Homo sapiens: one gene and its partners. The protein of the gene in region 3 interacts with the protein of the main gene of each other region in a pairwise test. Each region holds a gene or a part of one and is shown on either strand. Other genes may lie near its edges.

Region 1 (2,599 bases), on a different chromosome or scaffold from region 3:
AAATAACATTGTACTCTGGGAGATAGGGCAGAAGCTCAGTATGTGGTGGATGAGAACTAGGGTAGGTAAATTTCCCTTTGAGCAATTAAATGTCTATAATTACTTCAACCTTGTGGGGATGAAGTATTGAACACTTACTGTACCTAAAGCAAACTGCTAGGTAATAAGGATTACAACAATTGCTAAGCCATGATTTGTATCCTTGAATTGCTTAAAATATAATGTGAGTTAAGATATTAAAAAAAAAGACTAATACAGTAATTATAAGTATTATAAGAATTGTGCAAACGAGCTAGAAGAACTGAAAGGAGGAAAAAATCATTTCTGAGTTAATCAGGGACACTTCAAAAGAGCTTTTCTGTTTTATCTGAATCTTAATAGATTGATAGATTAGATGTATGTCTTACTGACTTCTCTTCCTCTTTTTTTTCTTTTTCTTTTCTACAGTACTTTACCTCGTGTGGGCCTTTATTCCTGAATCTTGGCTAAACTCTTTAGGTTTAACCTATTGGCCTCAAAAGTAAGTTTAATATATTTCTTAAATGAGGATATAATTAATGCTGTTTTGAGGAGTCATATCATTTCTTAAACCTACCCAAATCTTAAATATTTGTTCTCTTAAAATTCATGAATAGCCATATAGAAATTGAAAGCTTTTTAAAGATCGCTATTGATACATCTCTAATTAAAGATGGTAGCATGAACACACATGTTTATCTCCATCCATTTCCTCCAAAAATCTTGTTAAAATGACCCTACAGGAAAAAAAAAAAAAACTGAAGATACAAACCACAGAAACAATAGTATAGCAGAAAAGAGATATCAACCACATTTTGGAAAGTGGATTGTGATAGGTGAGAGGTAACTGCCTTTGTTTCTGTGATTTTCACGTTGCTGAAGTAGGGAAGCCAGCAAGAATATTTGTGCCTTAGAACTCCAGAATAGCTCAGACATTGGGGTACCAGGTAGCTCTTTAATTCTGGGTTGAACTGAAAACATGTTTAAAGACCATATGAAGTCTTCAGCCTTCAAATCTCCCTCAGCCCTCAAAGCTGGGAGGCCTGCCCTGCCCTCCCCTGCAGAAAACAGGAGTTTTACTCTCTGGCAAGGTTAAGTAAGAGTCTCTAGCATGGGGGCCACTAAGTCTGAGTGTGGGAATGCGGCATCTTACTGAAAACAGGGAAGTAAGTGAAAATCTACATGGCTTAATGAGAAGATTTACCTCCTGCTCCATCTTCCCTCTTGGGGCTTCGAGGCTTATATCACCCTACTGCTCACAGAAAAAGATAGATAGTTCTTTCCTGAGGAAGCTGACCAGCCCGAGAGAAAGGATCTATAATTTCTGACATTTAGAGGACCCCAGTGAAGTGGCCAAGTCTCTCAGAGTGAGGCTCACCAGTTGACCATCCCTGCCCACATACACATAGTGCTTCCAACTCACTTGTTAGCACTTCATTTTTAAATATGAATGGACTACTCTAAGTTACCAGACATTAAAAGAAAGCCTCTAGCATGAAATGAAAAAGCAGAAAATTAAAGGGAATTTGAAGGAAATAGAGATAATGCAGGAAACAGAAAAAAAAATTTAAATAACATAAAATTCTCAGAGGTAAGAAACAATTATAACTATGAAACAAGAACAGAATGCTATGCAAACAGGAAATTACTGTATTTGGAAATTGTAAACATGATAACCAAAATTAAAATTTTAATTGAAAGACTGGAAAATAAAACAAAGGTAATCTCTAGAAGTTAGAACAAAAAAAAATGAAAATATAAGAAAGTATAATCGTTAAAAATTCAAACTATTAGAAGTTCCAGAAAGAGAAAATAATAGAGAACAAATCATTTAAAAAAAAAAAAACATCTGGCCAACATCTCAAGACCCCATTTCTACAAAAAAATTAAAAATTAGCCAGGTGTGGTGGTGTGTGCCTATAGTCCCAGCTACTTGCAGGGCTGAAGTGAGCTCAGCAGATTGAGGCTAGTGATCTGTGATCATGCCGTTGCACTCCAGCCTGGGTGACAGAGGGAAATGCTTTCTCAAAAAGAAAAAAAAAACACTCAATGAAAAATAGCACTCCATGTACATAATGATACTGAGAGGCATAATAGAGTCCTATCAGAGAATTTGAGGCTCTGGTATTGGTGGATTCCTGGGAAACCAAGTGAACAGACAAAAAGATGTAATTATTCCAGAAAAAAAAAAGTTGTACAAGAAAATATATAATAATAATGTACTAAGATCCTCAGTTGCAAAATTGTTTATGTAGGTACAATTATTTCTAAAACCTGCTGCTATAATGAGAAATTGCAATGTAAGTATAGAAGAGGATAGGAGGAGGTTAATTCCTTATCTCCATATTAGGAAGCCTAGAGAAAATGTCTGTAATGGAAAAAAATGAGGAAATAGTAATATGAGCATGTTTTGTAGCAATGAGGAGGTAAGTACCAGAAGACAGCTCAAGTGCTCAAAGCATTTCTTTTTGGAGAGTGAGACCCCAGGGTTGGGATGGTGGGATAGAGGACTGCAGTTTTTCACTGTAAGCCTTGTGGAACTATTTGTCTCTTATGTACACATATTACTTTATAAAATTTA
Region 2 (3,374 bases), on a different chromosome or scaffold from region 3:
TTAGGATCCAGAGCTAATGAGGCTACAGGCCCACATTTGGTTCCAGAGGGCATCATTTTCTCCTCTAGCCACTCAACGGCCTTGTCTGGTTGTCCTACCTTTAGTCATAAGATGTCCATGGCACAGGCTGCAGCCCAGAGTAATTGGCTTCAAGACTAGAATCATCTCCAGAAGCAGCCATGCTCTGGTGGAGGGCCAGTAGCCTTGTACTTCTAGATCAATGGTGAGTGCAGGACTCTCTGACCACAGCCATCGAGTACACCCATTGCTGCCTTTGGACCTGGACATCTGAGGCCACTGCCCTGGGGCCCATGTTTTAGAGGGCTCTCTTGGTCTCTCTTCTAGCCACACTCTTTCACACGGGGTGAAGAGTCTGTGGGCCAAAGGGCCTAGCCCAGGCAGAGCCCACACCCCTCTTGTAGACTATGCTCAAGCTGCTTAGGACCCCAAACGCCCTGCCTAAGTGCATTCCAGAGCATTCTCAGGCCTCCGATGCAGATCTGTGCTCCTGAGAGTGGCCAGGCAGACTAGGCCTGAGGAGTGGGGTAGGGGCCATGCACCCAAGGTCCTAAGGCCCTTCCCAGTGAGGGCTGGCACCAGGAACTGGAAAAAAAAGAGGGCCAGGTTGTGAGCCAGGAACTTCTATCAGCACTTATGTTCTGCCACCCACAAAAGTCAGGGGCGGGCCTGACAAGAGGTAAGGGGAGCTAGGGCTGGCTAGGTAGCTTTCTCCTAGAATAGAGAGCCTAGTGCTAAAGAGGAAATGACTAAGCCTGGCTTGTTAGAAAAACCAAGCCTTTGGGTGAAGGTAGGAGTCATTGCTAGGTCAGAGGTAAGGTGCCAGGACATCACAGCCTCCTGACAGAGCTAACCCCATGTGCAAGACTGCCCACAGCAAATTCCCCTGCCCACCTCTGAAGGTTATTATTTTTATGAATAGCTACTACTGGGTGAGTGCTTAACAGATTCTAAATAATTCAGTTACCATCTAATTAACCTTCCACAGCTCTAAGGCAAATAATGCAATTCTCCATATACAGACAAGGAAATAAAGCTCAAAGAGGCCATCTATACGAAGTGCCCCAGGTCACCCATCCTATAAGTGGTAGAACTAATGTGCTCACTCAGGCAATTTAGGCTGCGATGCCCCAATGGAATTATAAAGATAAACCGATAGCTACGAAAACAGAGCTCTTTACAGCAAAGAGGACCTACAAATTTGAGTATTACTAAGGCTGTTATCCTCTCTGACAATAGGTTCATTGAATCATTCAGTAAACATTTATTTTAATTTTTAAAAATATTTATTTATTTGTTAAGACAGAGTCTCTCTCTTTTGCCCGGGCTGGAGTTCAGTGGCGTGATCTTGGCTTATGGCAACCTCTGCCTCCCAGGTTCAAGTGATTCTCCTGCCTCAGCCTCCCTAGTAGCTGGGATTACAGGTGTGTGCCACCACTCCCTGCTAATTTTTTGCATTTTTAGTAGAGACGGGGTTTCACCAAATTGGCCATGCTGGTCTTGAACCCCTGACCTCAGGTGATCCCCCCGCCTCAGCTTCCCAAAGAGCTGGGGTTACTGGCTTGAGCCACCATGCCCGGCTATTCAGTAAACATATAATTGTCTGTGTCTACATGCCAGAAACCTTGCTGGGTTATGAGACAGAAAGATGAGTAAGTTACAGCCCTTGTCTTCAAGAAATGTAGAGCAGGGGTTCTCAAACTTCAGCAAGCCCCAGAATCACCTGGAAGACTTGTTAAATCACAGATTGCGAGGCCCGAGCCCTGAGTTTCTGATTCAGTGGGTCTGAGTAGGGTCCCAGCACGTGCATCTCTAGCAAAGTCCCAAAAGATGTTGATGCTGTTGTCCTGGAGAACCCACTTTGAGAACTACTTTGAGAACCACTTTGATAAAAGTTAGGGCAATCAAGATCCTCTCCATAAGGCAACGTAGAATTGCACTGCTCTCCCTTCCCTGAGCAAGAAGCACAAGGATAAAACGAACCTCAGAGTCACCCTTGAAGGAGGAAACCATCCCAAAGCTTCTTCAAGCGCTGCAGAGCCATAGATGGTGGCCTCGCTGAAGTCTCCCTGTGAATGGGAGGCAGGCGAGCACCATCCCGTGAGCCCTCATGAGTGTGTTCGGTGTTTTATACTCCTGGCTGGCTGACACGCTTTCCTCTAGCCCCTCTAGCTGCCCATCCCTGCAAGCCCACAGCAGTTACCCTGTCCAGGTTCAAACCTGGTGACATGCTTGGGGATCTTACTACCAACCTGAGGGAAGGGGCCAGAATTCCCGGGAATGTCTTTTCAGATTACTTGCATTTGATTTCAGGATGCATAAGAGAGGGCAGATGTCCCACATTGGCATGAACTGAGAATGAGTCGTCCACCTTGTGCTTTTCCTCTCCTTCCTGCAAAAAGTCCCAGAAGACGATCAGCAAGGAAAGCAGCCGCTAGGGAAGGCAAATAAAAAATAAATAGAAATGCACAATTGGCTGGGAGCCCCTAAGGATTAACTAACTAATTAATCCCACAACAGTTTGACCAGGAACTAATTAATCCGTTAAGCACTTGGAGGGCCCAAGGCCCTGGCCAAGAGCAGGGAGAGGCTTCACTTATCTCCGGAGGCTGGCGCGGAGTGGGACTGTCCTCCAGGCTCTCCAAGGAGGGCCTGGGTGAAGACTGTCCTTCCCAAAATCAGTGGTTCCTGCTGCATCAGAAATCTGCTTCTCAAGCTATTTCTTGAGCCAGACTCCTGTGTCACTCTGCCCAGGGAACCGAATCAAAGAAGAGAGCCCTGAGGAAAGGCAGCTGGGCTTCAGCCCCTCCAAGGATGGGAGCCACAGAGTGTTAGAACTGGAAAAGACTTCAGCCATCTCGTCCTTCCAACCCACTTTCCAGATGAAGAATGAAGTTTCCAGGTTACCTGGTGTGCTGTTTGGACCTAGAGACAACTGATGTTTCTTTCTGATCATTCCTACATAGCACCCAGACAGGGAGAATTCAGATCTCTCTTTAGGTGCTGTCTTTAACTCCACCTCAGAAGTCACCAGGTGCAGAAATCTTTCTTAAAGCAATGTAGTCTGTTTGACTAAGATCGTCATTTTTTAATATGATTTTTCATGAGCTTTGGTAACAAATTTAAGGCTGGTCACAACATATTCAGGTGGCTCTAACATAGATCTTTCCTCTCATTAGCTTTTCTGACACTCTTTTTAATCTTCTGTTTCCCTGAAACCCAGGTCACCTCATGTTACAACCTGATCTCCAAAAAATCTGACAGCAGCCATCTGGGGATGTAAGCTACTGTTAACCTTTCCCAGAGAATATTTTTCTTTAGACTCCTCTCTCATTACAGAACAAGAGACTCTATAG
Region 3 (3,500 bases):
GTATCTAGCGGGTGGTAGTGGAAGAGGTAAGTAGCCAGATTCTAAATATGCTTTGAAGGTAGACAGGGTTTGCTGATGGATTGGATGTGAGGTAAAGAGAAACAGAGGAATTAAGCATAACTCAAAGGTTTTTTTTTTTCTTGGACACATTCCACATTTTATTTACATTTTCAGACTAACTTTGGGCTGGGTGCTGTGCCTCATGCCTGTAATCTCAGCACTTCGGGAGGCCAAGGCAAGTGGATCACTTGAGATCAGGAGTTCCAGACCAGCCTGGCCAACATGGTGAAACCTTGTCTGTACTAAAAATACAAAAATTAGCCAGGCGTGGTGGCATGTGCCTGTAGTCCTAGCTACTCGGGAGGCTGAGGCAGGAGGATTGCTTGAGCCCAGTAGGCAGAGGTTGCAGTGAGCTGAGATCATGCCACTGCATTCCAGCCTGGGCAACAGAGAGAGGCTCCATCTCAAAAAAAAAAAAAAAAGACCAACTTTAGTTTCAAAATTATATCTCCATATATGTATCCCTTTTTTGTTGATGTCACTTAACCTTAAGTGCATAGTTTGTTAAAAAAAAAAAACTGTAAGCAAATATTTACCATGTCTGTTACGTGTAACACACATGAACAGCTTTTAACAGAAATTCATCAACTCCCCCCCAACATTTTTTATTATAAGATAGGTATCAAAACAATCCTGAACATATTTTTCATACTACTAGTAGTCAGCACCCACACCACTTCAAAAATTAACACATTTGTGCTGGATGTGGTAGTTTTTACCCATAATCCCAACACTTTGGGAGGCTGAGGCAGGCAGATCACCTGAGTTCAGGAGTTCGAGACCAGCCTGGCCAGCATGGTGAAACCCCATCTCTACTAAAAATACAAAAATAAGCTGGGCATGGTGGTGCATGCCTGTAGTCCCAGCTACTTGGGAGGCTGAGGTAGGAGAATCGCTTGAACCTGGGAGGTTGTAGTGAGCCAAGATCTCATCACTGCATTCCAGCCTGGGCAACAGAACAAGACTCCATCTCAAAAAAATAAAAAAAATTAAAAAAATCAAACACATTTGTGACAGTGTTCATTGTACCTGCTACTTTTTTTTTTTTTTTTAATTTAACGGAGTCTTGCTCTGTCGCCTAGGCTGGGGTACAGTGGTGCGATCTTGGCTTACCACAATCTCCGCCTCCCAGGTTCAAGTATAATCCCAGTAGCTGGGATTACAGGTGCCCGCCTGGCTAATTTTTGTATTTTTAGTAGAGACGGGGTTTCGCCATGTTGGCCAGGCTGGTCTCTCTAACTCCTCACCTCAAGTGATCAACCCTCCTTGGCCTCCTAAAGTGCTGGGATTACAGGCGTGAGCCACTATGCCTGGCCAATACCTGCTACTTTTTAAACAATTTCAACTGCAGCTCTCTTTCACTAAGCAAGATGGATAAAGCATGCCATTTCTGTTTTCTTTTTTCTTGAGACAGAATTTTGCTCTTGTTGCCCAGGCTGGAGTACAATGGCACGATCTCGGCTCACCACAACCTCCACCTCCGGGGTTCAAGCAGTTCTGCCTCCGCCTCCCAAGTAGCTGGGATTACAGGCATGGGCCACCACGCCCTGCTAATTTTGTATTTTTAGTAGAGACAGGGTTTCTCCATGTTGGTCAGGCTGGTCTCAAACTCCTGACCTCAGGTGATCTGCCCACCTTGGCCTCCCAAAGTGCTGGCATTAAAGGTGTGAGCCACCTCTCCTGGCCTCTGTTTTCTTTTTCCTTTCCTTTTTTGTTTGAGATGGGGGTCTTACTCTGTCACTCAGGCTAGAGTGCAGTGGTGCGATCTCAGCTCACTGCAACTTCTGCCTCCCGGGATCAAGCGATCATCCTACCTCAGTCTCCTAAGTAGCTGGGACTACAGGCGCGTGCTACCACGCCTGGTTAATTTTTGGATTTTTTGTAGGGACGGACTTTCACTATGTTGGCCAGGCTGGTCTTGAACTCCTGGCCTCAAGTGATCTGCTCGCCTGAGCCTCCCAAAGTGCTGGGATTACAGACATGAGCCACTGTGCCCAGCCCTGTTTTCTTTATTGAGATTTTTAGTCTTTAGAAACACACATGCTTCCACTGCCATCTGACACTTCTTACCACGCTTTCATCTTGTAAACCTGAATTATATTTCGAGTACTCCAAGTTTATGTTTAAATGACAGTACCTTAACAAGAGAAAAAAATTGGGTTGCATTTTTCCTGTTACCTGAAAACATAATGGGTGTACATATATTAAATATATTCTTACAAATGTCCAGGTCATGTTTACCAGCCGGAGTTCTTTTATTTAACGTGTGGGTATTTTGCATTGTGATATTTAATCAAGACATTAACACGAGTAGAAGGTTGTTGATATAAGACAAGTTTGAGATCCACTAAAATTAATTGTTGTATGTTTGTCCTTCCAGTGGCTGTGGAAGCTTCATATTTTCTTTGGACATCATTAGACGTCTTAGCTCCTGAAGTACAACTTTAATGCTATATGAATTTTGTCATTTTGCTAACACTGGTGTGCTGCGGTCATCCACCATCCCACTGGAGTTATTTATTCCATTCATATTAATTCTTGTTACAAATCTAACTGATGGGGGAGCTTCTGGGTATTTGGGTCCACTTTCTATTTTCAGGCTATATATTCTTTTTTTTTATTTTTGAGACAGAGGCTCGCGCTGTGGCCCACACGGGAGCGCAGTGGCGTGATCTCGGCTCACTGCAACCTCTGCTTCCTAGGTTCATGTGATTCTCCTGCCTCAGCTTCCCGAGTAGCTGGGATTACAGGTGCACACCACCACACCCAGCTAATTTTTTGTATTTTTAGTAGAGATGAGGTTTCACTATGTTGGGCAGACTAGTCTCAAACTCCTGACCTCGTGATCTGCCCTCCTTGGCCTCCCAAAGTTCTGGGATTATAGGTGTGAACTGCCATGCCCGGCCTATATTCTCTTTTCATAATTTGTCCTTGGTGGCCCAATAATCATGCCTGTCCACCTTGTAAATGTCATATCTTCATCATCTTTAAGGCCCCAGTTAATCATACCATTGCCTATCAATAGCTGCATAAGCATAACTCAAAGGTTTTGACCTGAGAACTGGAAGATACCATCTGGAGTGATGTCATCATGTGAGAAGGGCAAGGCTGGGGATAGAACAAGTTTTGGGGGAAAAGCAAGCAATTGACTTCGTGGTTTTTTGTTTTGTTTTTTGTTTGTTTTGAGACAGAGTCTCACTCCGTCTCCCAGGCTGGAGTGCAGTGGCATGATCTCGGCTCACTGCAGCCTCTGCCTCCCGGGTTCAAGTGATTCTCAGCCTCCCAAGTAGCTGGGATTACAGGCGTCTGCCACCATGCCTGGCTAATTTTGTATTTTTAGCAGAGACGGTGTTTCACCATGTTGTCCAGACTGGTCTCAAACTCCTGACCTCAGGTGATCCACCCACCTTGGCCTACCAAAGTGCTGGGATTACAGGCAT
Region 4 (3,500 bases), on a different chromosome or scaffold from region 3:
AGCTGGGCATGGTGGTGGTGCCTATAGTCCCAGCTACTGGGGAGGCTGAGGTGGGAGAATCGCTTGAATCTGGGAGGTGGAGGTTACAGTAAGCGAGATCACACCACTGCACTCCAGCTGGGTGACAGAGGGAGACCCCGTTGAGAGAGAGAGAGAGAGAGAGAGAGAGAGAGAGAATATATATATATATATATATATATATATATATATATATATACACACACACATATATACACACACACATACATATATATATATACACACACATATACAACCACTTTGCCACTGGCACCAACCACCCAGAACTGACACTGGCTATGGTGCAGGAGCAGAATCTGGAAGACTCCCAGCTCTGCCAGGAGCGAATCTCTTCGTTTCCAAATCATGGATAAGTCTGGGGGTTCAGCCACTTAGGAGACTCGGCACAGCAAGTATCCACGAGAGAACTGTTTGACATAATTGACTCACTGATGTGGCTGTGCTGGGTGTCCCGGGTGAATGTCACCCTTGGATCACTCTTTGTCATCCCTGTCATTCCTATTTCAATGGGACTGCAGGAGTTAAAGGAGCTAACCTTTGTTATTTCACATAATGATGCTTTGTGTTATTCCAATTTCTTTATGAATTTAATGCATATAATAGGATGGCACAGAAGATTAGATGAAAACACCTGCAAAATGTGTGGTAGGGCGCCTATCACATAGTAGGCTTTAAATATAGCATATCTCTTTCCTCTGCTTCCTCCAGCCCATAATCAAGGGTGCTTGCAGCTGGCCCAGTGCCCTTTCTCTCACAGAAGCTGGGGCTTCACTAAGGCTGTCAGTTATCTGCTGAGGATCTGTCAGTGTTTGGAAGAGAAGGAGCCAGTGTTTGCTAGCTTGGCATCCCCCGGACTGTCAGGAGCCAGGCTGGGAACAGCAGAGGCCAGCAGAAGAAAGGCCAGAGTCAGCAGTCTAACATACAAGGAAATCTTTACCGCCCTCGGGCCTGTAGAACCATTCCACCACCGTGGTGGCCTCCACCTCCTCTCTCTTCATGCAGGAGATGCAGCGCAGCTTCATGGGGTTGCCCTGCACGGCCTCCGTCTCCGAGGGCACTTCCACACACACAGGGAAGCAGACACTGACTGCAGAGAGGACAGATGGACAGGGAAGGAACAGCAGGTGGTGGGGGAGGGGCACAGGAGAGAAACATTGGAGAAGAAGGAGGGAGGGAAGAGAGACAGAGAAGGAAGAGTCATGAGGCCAACCTGAAAAAAGCCACGTGCACATGTCTACACCTTCACCTGCGCTCCCTGAATGTACAGGCTCAGAACGTGTACACATTGGAGGAGACCTGGATGATCTAGACATTGACTGAAATCCTTCCCCTGGAAGCAGTGGAGATGCAGCACCGTACATTATACTTGAGCCCTGCTCTCTAAGTCTTATAGCCCAAATGGGAGACAGGGCATCTACCTACCCAGCAACCATCCATCCCCCTTCATTCCACCACCACTCATTAAAATCCACTCTCTGCCAGGTCTGATGCTAGACTAGAGATGCAAAGATGAATAAAACACTAACCATGCCCTAAATGCATTTATAATCCAATAGGGAACACATATTCCTAACTAGGATTAAACCAGACCACAGCAAGTAACACACTCATGATATATTCTGTTCTTAGAAGACAGGCAGTTAGTTACTCCCAGTTGGCCTGGGGAGAAAGGAAGAGAAGGATGGTGAAACATGAGGCTAGAAAGGTAGGCAGGGCCCATGCTGTGAAGACCTCTGTGTGTCCCTTCCAGTGTGAGGTATCCAATGTTTTAAAGTCGTGGAGAGATGTAATTGTATCTGTGTTGTGTGAAAACTGTAGGTAATTCTGACACATGGTGGAGGTTGGAGCAGCAGTGAAGAAAATGGCGAGCGGACCACTAAGCTGGAACAATGGTCTATGCAGAGGAGTATAGCAAGGCAAGTTAAAATCTGGAGCGGGGTCAGATTGTGGGACACCTTGCATGCCACACAGAGGTCTAAGACTTAGTGTTTCTGCCCTCTAGAAACTTGAAGTCTGTTTTTTAAAAGGAGGCAAGTATATCAGCTTGATAATTCAGAATAACTTGAGCGGGACAAGGCTGCCAGCAAAACATGCGCAAATGTGAGCTGCATTAACAGATGTACAGTACGCAGGAGGAAGGAGGCGTAGTTTCTCGGCACTGTTTTTGGAACAAATCTGGACTATTATGATCAGTTCAGGATGTCACATTTTAAAAAAGGAAGTTGTTCAAAGAGTGCATGCCCAGAGGTGAGGGAGATGGTGAAGGATCTGGAGATAAAGTCTGGTGAGGAAAAAATGGGAGAATTCGAGTTGCTTAGCTTGGACACAGAACATATCTGTCTTCAAATATTTGAAGGCTGGCAGATGGAAGAGAAATTTGATTCTGCCCAACCCTAAAAGTTATAAGAAAAAAATAAGTTTAATGCAATAAAGAAAGAATTTTATGATTTTGGAGCTGTTCACAAATGCAAATAACTAAATGCTAAGAGAGTGTACACAGCATTGTTTGGGATATTTGAAAGTAAGACGAGGCCAGGTGCTGTGGCTCACACCTGCAATCCCAGCACTTTGGGAGGCTAAGTTGAGAGGATTGCTTGATGTTAGGGGTCTGAGACAAGCCTGGGCAACATAGTGAGACCCCTGAGTCTACAAAAATAAAATAAAATAAAAATTAGCCAAACATGGTAACACACAACTGTAGTCCCAACCACTCAGGAGGTAAGAGGATTGCTTGAGCCCAGGAGTTTGAGGCTGCAATGAGCTATGATGGCACCACTGCACTCCAGACTGGTTGACAGAGTAAGACCCTATCTCTTGAAAAAATAAAAACAACATGATGGTCACCGCAGATTCTTATATTAGGACTTTGAAGATCCCTTCTGATGCTACTTTTTCATGAATTAATAATAAAAACAGAACCCCCAGAAAAAAAAAGAAATAATACACACTACATTTAAAAACTAGTCCACTGTTAATGGTCAGCCTGTTCATCTCCTGGCAGAGCGTTCTTTCCTAAAAGCAGAGGAAGGTTTTATTTAGAGCTTAATAAGACACTGCCATAAATTAATTTTGAGTCCAAAAACTGTGTTTGATTGACTTAGAAGGCAATGTATTTATTTTAAAACATGGAGTTTAAAAACTAGTGGCACTAGAATTAACTTAAAGTTGTAAACATCAAGGTAAAATAAATGTAATTGGGTTTTCAACTCTCCAGCAAGCTGGGTGAGTCTTATCTGACAGTCTTCAAGAGGACCTATTGCTTCTGCAGATGGTGAGCCACGTTAATGGAGAGAGGACTCACATCTAGGGAGAACTGATCAGAAACATCTTCAGCATATGATGAGTCTGAAGTATTGATTATAGATCTGATTAAACAAAAAGGAAATGTGGTTTGCGCAAAAGTTTGTGAGTGGGCAGAGGGGTAGAGCGTATGCAGCAAGAACTCCGTGTAGTATGGAACC

What was found. The genes of interacting proteins can lie anywhere in the genome.
Region 1: the proteins of UBIAD1 (region 3) and PIGP interact in binary tests that used the Homo sapiens proteins (3 or more experiments, as listed by UniProt).
Region 2: the proteins of UBIAD1 (region 3) and CPLX4 interact in binary tests that used the Homo sapiens proteins (3 or more experiments, as listed by UniProt).
Region 4: the proteins of UBIAD1 (region 3) and SCN3B interact in binary tests that used the Homo sapiens proteins (3 or more experiments, as listed by UniProt).

The regions. Positions count from the first base shown.
Region 1 is NC_000021.9:37,067,473-37,070,071, reverse strand, and holds part of PIGP (phosphatidylinositol N-acetylglucosaminyltransferase subunit P), read left to right. Parts: intron 1-447; coding exon 448-520; intron 521-2,599. UniProt on the Homo sapiens protein: Part of the glycosylphosphatidylinositol-N-acetylglucosaminyltransferase (GPI-GnT) complex that catalyzes the transfer of N-acetylglucosamine from UDP-N-acetylglucosamine to phosphatidylinositol and participates in the first step of GPI biosynthesis.
Region 2 is NC_000018.10:59,298,276-59,301,649, reverse strand, and holds part of CPLX4 (complexin-4), read left to right. Parts: intron 1-3,374.
Region 3 is NC_000001.11:11,276,198-11,279,697, forward strand, and holds part of UBIAD1 (ubiA prenyltransferase domain-containing protein 1), read left to right. Parts: intron 1-2,216; exon of another isoform or gene 2,217-2,676; intron 2,677-2,979; exon of another isoform or gene 2,980-3,078; intron 3,079-3,500. UniProt on the Homo sapiens protein: Prenyltransferase that mediates the formation of menaquinone-4 (MK-4) and coenzyme Q10. MK-4 is a vitamin K2 isoform present at high concentrations in the brain, kidney and pancreas, and is required for endothelial cell development.
Region 4 is NC_000011.10:123,644,625-123,648,124, forward strand, and holds part of SCN3B (sodium channel regulatory subunit beta-3 precursor), read right to left. Parts: intron 1,127-3,500; coding exon 963-1,126; intron 1-962. UniProt on the Homo sapiens protein: Regulatory subunit of multiple voltage-gated sodium (Nav) channels directly mediating the depolarization of excitable membranes.